Regions from separate parts of the Homo sapiens genome. Here region 2 is linked to region 1. The links come from fine-mapping of genetic effects on gene expression. A gene starts in region 1. The other region holds a variant in brackets. All regions are shown on one strand. Distances are from middle to middle.

Region 1 (2,796 bases):
ATTGAGACAGGAGAGAAAGATTTAATCAGCCATAAATGACCTTTCCCTAGCCTGCCCCAGTCCTGCCCACCTCCTGCCCCACTTGCCCAGCCAATGGGCCCCTGGGACTGAGATCAGCTGTGGAGGATATGAACTGCTCAAAAAAAAAAAAAAAAAAAAAAGTGAAAAGGTCTCCAGCCCAAAGGCAAGAGACTGCCCTACCCACACCTTGCTCCTGCAGCCCTTCTGTATTTACCTGTTTCAAGTGACTCCGTTCCTAGATACCTACTACGTCCTACTCCTGGCCCATCTTCTTCACCCTCCTCCCGTTTGTTCCCCTACCCAGAGCTTCTTTCTACAGATTCCATCTTCCCCTCCTTATGGATTGGGGATCAGAGGATCAGACTCAACCTCACAATATCTTTTCAGATTTTTTTCCCCAGGGCCTCACCAATCCAGGCCTTCCCAAGGTCACCCCTTTCTTCTCCCCATCTCCAAGGTTAGTTTCTGTCCCTTCCCTCCACCCTCACTATCAACATTCCTATTGCCCTTAGGATGTGCCAGGTCCAGTCCTTAGCATTTTACATATTGATTTTTCACAGCCCTATGAGGTGGCCACTGTTAATATTTTAGAGAGGAAAATTAGCTCCATAGATCCAGAGAAGTGCAGTCCGTTGGCCAAGGCTACACAAGTGGAAAGCGGCAGAGCAAGGACATGCATCCACCCATGTAACCACTACTCTCCTATCTGTCAACTGTAGTTCAAAGCTCTTCTGCAACCCATTGCCTCTCCCCGTCTAAAGATAGGCTTCCACCTAGGTTTTTTGCAGTGTAATCTTGCCCTTAGCAGCATCCACCTGAAGGGATTGTGACCCTTTTGACAAGAAACAAAGCCTTCTCAAGTGTTTCTAAGAAATGTGGGCAAAGTGCCCTGTCTGTACCTCTCTCCCTCCTTTTTTCCCCTCATTAATTCAACAAATATTAATCGTCTCCTCTGTACAGTGTCCAGAACACACGAATTCTCTGTCTTGATATTCGATCAAGAGACACAGGAATCAAACAAATTTTTTACACAATTCATTTTAAAATCAGAATTGTGGCAAAGGAGCAAAGAAATACAAGGCCCTATGCAGCCTGTGACAGGGACCTGTTCTCTTCTTTCTTCTTCTTGAAGAGGGATCTTTGCCCAGAAGAAAGTCCCTCCCTTACAAAGTCAGTTTCATTCTCCAAACCCTGAGGGAGAAGGTCTTGCGGTCTTCCCCTGTTCCTCCAAGGAGCCTCCCCTGAATACCAGTGGCAGCTAATAAGGAACCCCCATCTCTCTCTTCAAGTCGTCTCCCTCAGGGCCCACAAAGAAGTTGCAAACGGGTTTTTTCCTCTCCTAAAGAAGTGGAAGTTCTTTTCGTCTCCTAAGGAAGTGGCAGATCTTCCCTTCGGTGTCTTCTCCAAGGAGTCTCCCACTCTTTTTCCCTTTTGTGACAGCCCTTCCTTCATATCCTTCAGGGACCCCACACTCTGAAGATAGCCTTTACATCCCTAATCCCCTTTGGGAAAACCGCCTGGGGCCCAGGTACTCACAGATCTAGCCAGTCCCCGAGCCCCAGGCTGCCGCAGCAGCAGGAGGGCAGCCTGGCTCAAACCACGGTTTAGCCGCCAGACCCTCGCTGCAGCGATCGCTACCGCCATCTTGGCTAACAACCACTCAGCGGTCCGGCACTCACGTAGGCTAGATTCGGGGCTGCCTCTTTATGTGCCTGACGCAAACTCCAGCACCATCTGACAAGAAAACCATCTTCTTCCCGTTCTGTGGTAGATAGAATGCACAGAGATTTGGAGAAAAAAAAATCTATCTACCCAAAATTTTCTCCAATCGCCTCATTGTAGTTACTCCTGTAACAGGCAAAGAAGAGGGCAACCTGACCAGGGCCTCAGGGATTTAGGGCCCGGGGGCCCAGAGTAAAGCGGATCAATGCCAAGGCCTGCCTTCTGTTCCCAAATGTCCAATGGCGTTGCCAGAGTTAGGAGGTGGGACTGGGCGGAGCCAGATTGTTGGTAAACGCTAAGCCACGTGCGGACGCCCAGGAGGATGGCCCAGCCCGGCGCGTGCGCACTGGTTACGCAGCCTGTTTGCGGCGCGCGCTGCCAGGCGGAAGTGACAACTGCAGCCGCACGTGGGCTCGGCGCGATGGAGGAGGAGACGCATACTGACGCCAAAATCCGTGCTGAAAATGGAACAGGGTCCAGCCCTCGGGGTCCTGGCTGCAGCCTCCGGCACTTTGCCTGCGAACAGAACCTGCTGTCGCGGCCAGATGGCTCTGCTTCCTTCCTGCAAGGTAAGAACTTCACCCAGGTCTTTCTTTTGGAGAGGGACTACCGTGTACTGTGCAACCGAGTGCCCACCTCCTCACGATACCAGCTGGTAAATGTCACTCCTGCGTTGATGCATGATTTCTTGTCCGATTGAATACTACTAAATACGCAGGGATACACACATCTCTCCCTCACGACTAGAAAGGAGAAGATAGTTCCATCTTTGTAACTATCTCTGAGAATGAGAGGAGGGGCAGACTGTCCGCCCAAGAATTGATATTTCAGAATAGGGAAAATCACCTCGCCAGGGTAAATATCCCCCTTAACTCGATTCCTCCTCCACCCTCCCACCCCCACCCCCCACACACACACCCTCTAGGTCCTTGCATCCCGGACTGAAGCAAACCTGTCTATTTGCATACTGTGGACTGTGGCGGATCTTTCACCCACGTAAATACTCCTCAAATTGAAGATAATGTCATTGCGCTGGGTTGAGAAATACATCCC
Region 2 (2,796 bases), 20 kb before region 1:
CATCAGCACACCTAGGAGGGGAGGAGGCAATGGTTAGCCGAGTGGGCAGTACAGGGGGACAGTTCAGCCCTGTGGGTGACCTGCAGCATGCTGGCAGGCAGACAGGAAAGCTCAGGCTTGTTTTAAGAGGAAGACTGATGTTCAGACTGACTGACTCTGCCCAGCAAGGCCAATCTGATTTTTCAAAAGAAAGCAGAAATCTAGCCTTTTTCTTTCTTTCTCTTAGTGAGATATTGTCTGGTATTTAAGTGCTTTCAACTAATTCAATTACCTTTAAGAAATATTCTAACCATAAATCATTACTATGGCCAGGCATGGTGGTTCATGCCTGTAATCCCAGCACTTTGAGAGGCTGACGTTGGAGGATCGCTTGAGCCCAGGAGTTGGAGACCAGCCTGAGCAACATGGTGAGGCCTCGCTTCTACAAAAAAAAAAAAAAATCAAAACATTAGCCAGGCATGGTGATGTGTGCCTGTGGTTCCAGCTACTTGGGAGGCTGAGGCAGAGGATTGCTTCAGCCCAGAAGTTCAAGGCTGCAGGCAGCTGAGATCGTGCCACTGCACTCCAATCTGGGCTACAAAGCAAGACCCTGTCTCGAAAAAAAAAAAAAATCATCATTATGAACCAAATAACAGCATAGACCACTAATTTACAACTTCTGGACTACAGAAGTACTCTAACCCATGTATGGCAGTAAAACCTTTTCTTCAAACAAAACCTCTGGTGAACACCCACCTCCCCATCAAAGGGAACCGCTCCAGGTTAAGGGGGCCCTTCCTCCGAAGTTAGAAGACAGAAGGGGGTTTGTGATTGCCCTCAGACAAGCTCTTTGCCCCGCCTGAAGAGTGGGACAACCTTCACACCAACACTTTAGGGGCAGCGCTGTGGATCAATGCTGCAAGCACTCAGACCGGGAACATTATTCAGAGGGAGCTCTCTAGTACAGTGCTTTCCAAATCCTTTCTTTACCGCAGAACCCGCTCTTTAGATACAAATTTAATGGAGATCACATTACACACAGCAGTTACCTTTTTTTTTTTTTTTTTTTTTTTTTGAGACAGAGTCTGGCTTGGCCACCCAGGCTGGAGTGCAGTGGCGCAATCTGAGCTCACTGCAACCTCCACCTTCCAGGTTCAAGCAATTCTTATGCCTCAGCCTCCCAGATAGCTGGGATTCCAGGTGTGCACCACTAGATCTACCTAATTTTCTTTCTTTTTTTTTTTTTGAGACGGAGTTTTGCTCTTGTTGCCC[A/G]GAATGCAATGGCGCAATCTTGGCTCACTGCAACCTCTGCCTCCTGGGTTCAAGCGATTCTCCTGCCTCAGCCTCCTGAGTAGCTGGGATTACAGGCATGTGCCACCACATCCAGCTAATTTTTGCATTTTCAGGAGAGACGGGGTTTCTCCATGTTGGTCAGGCTGGTCTCAAACTCCCGACCTCAGGTGATCCACCCACCTCAGCCTCCCAAAGTGCTGCAATTACAGGTGTGAGCCACCACGCCCAGCCCACTTGTTGATATTTTAGTTAGAGTTGAGGGTGGTTAGCACTACTTCAACATCCAACTTTAATACAGGTTTACTGGTATTTTCTGACACATGCTTTTGAATGGACATAATACAAATCCACACAAGATGTGGCTGTGCTGCATATGTAACAGATAGAAACAGGAGTTGCTCTGGTTAAGGAGGGAAAGAAAGGTCTTGTAGAGGGTCAAAGAAGGTCCAAGGGACTGATACAGGACCTTGGAATCAGGCTTTCTCAGAATGTGGTACTAGGTCCACCCATGTGAGAAGGACTGGGCAGGGGCAGGGGAACGTGCTAAAAGTACAAACTTGTCAGGCTCAGTGGCTCGTGCCTGTAATCCCAGCACTTTGGAAGGGTGAGGCAGGTGGACTGCTTGAGCTCAGGAGTTTGAGACCAGCCTGGGCAACACAGCGAAACCCCGTCTCTACCAAAAATCAAAAAAAAAATTAGCCAGGTGTGGTGGCGTGCACCTGTGGTCCCAGCTATTCAGGGGGCTGAGGTGGGAGGATCACTTGATCCTAAGAGGCAGAGGTTGCAGTGAGCCGAGATCATGCCACTGCACTTCAACCTGGGTGACAGAGTAAGACCCCGTCTTGAAGAAAAAAGAAAATACAGACTCACAGGCTGATTTGCACCAGGAAACTCCAGGTCCAGTGGGAACTGCTGCTCTTGCTTGACACATGCTACCTCTTTTCTTGTTGGTCTCAGAGACAGGATCTTACTCTGTCACCCAAACTGGAGTTCGGTGGTGGAATCATAGCTCACTGCAGTCTTGAACCTCTGGGCTCAAGCAATCCTCCCACTCAGCTTCCTGAGTAGCTGGGACTACAGGTGTGCACCACCACGCCTGGCTAATTTTTTAATTTTTTAGAGATGGGGGTCTCGCCATGTTGCCCAGGCTGGTATCAAACTCCTGGGCTCAAGCAATCCTCCCGCCTCAGCCTCCCGAAGTGCTGGGATTACAGGCGTGAGCCACCACACCTGGCACGTGCTTCCTCTTAACACTCCTTTTCACCGGGCGCCACTCCCTGCCAGTGCCACCACTGATACTCCACATATAGCCCTGGGAAGACAGCCAAGGGTGGGAAACAGCGAGAGCTGTCTCTGGGTCAGACTGCCATAAAAAGACTCGGCTCCACTCCTTAGGAGAATGTGGCCTGGGCCCATGACCTCACCTTTGTTGACTCAGGTTCTTACCTGGCTTTTAGAGTTGATGGTAATGCTTGCCTCTCCTGCCTCACATGGATGGGGGAGGTGCCTCAATGAGGCAACACC

The links. PIP is the estimated chance that this variant, and not a neighbour inherited with it, causes the effect.
Region 2: its variant is the best candidate, but not a certain one, in a credible set for the expression of BCKDHA in whole blood (INTERVAL, PIP 0.59).

What each region holds. Positions count from the first base shown.
Region 1 is chr19:41,396,697-41,399,492 of GRCh38, reverse strand. BCKDHA (branched chain keto acid dehydrogenase E1 subunit alpha) reads right to left here and starts at 1,675. Exons shown (of 9, transcript NM_000709.4): 1 at 1,558-1,675. The coding sequence starts at 1,665. EXOSC5 (exosome component 5) reads left to right here and starts at 2,134. Exons shown (of 6, transcript NM_020158.4): 1 at 2,134-2,312. The coding sequence starts at 2,165. RefSeq lists enhancers at 820-1,491, 1,647-1,926, 1,492-2,164 and a silencer at 1,923-2,211.
Region 2 is chr19:41,416,350-41,419,145 of GRCh38, reverse strand. BCKDHA (branched chain keto acid dehydrogenase E1 subunit alpha) reads right to left here. Exons shown (of 9, transcript NM_000709.4): 5 at 1-11. Among named protein-coding and RNA genes, the nearest start is that of B3GNT8, 9.6 kb to the left of the region's middle. The variant A/G (reference allele first, on the strand shown) is at 1,252.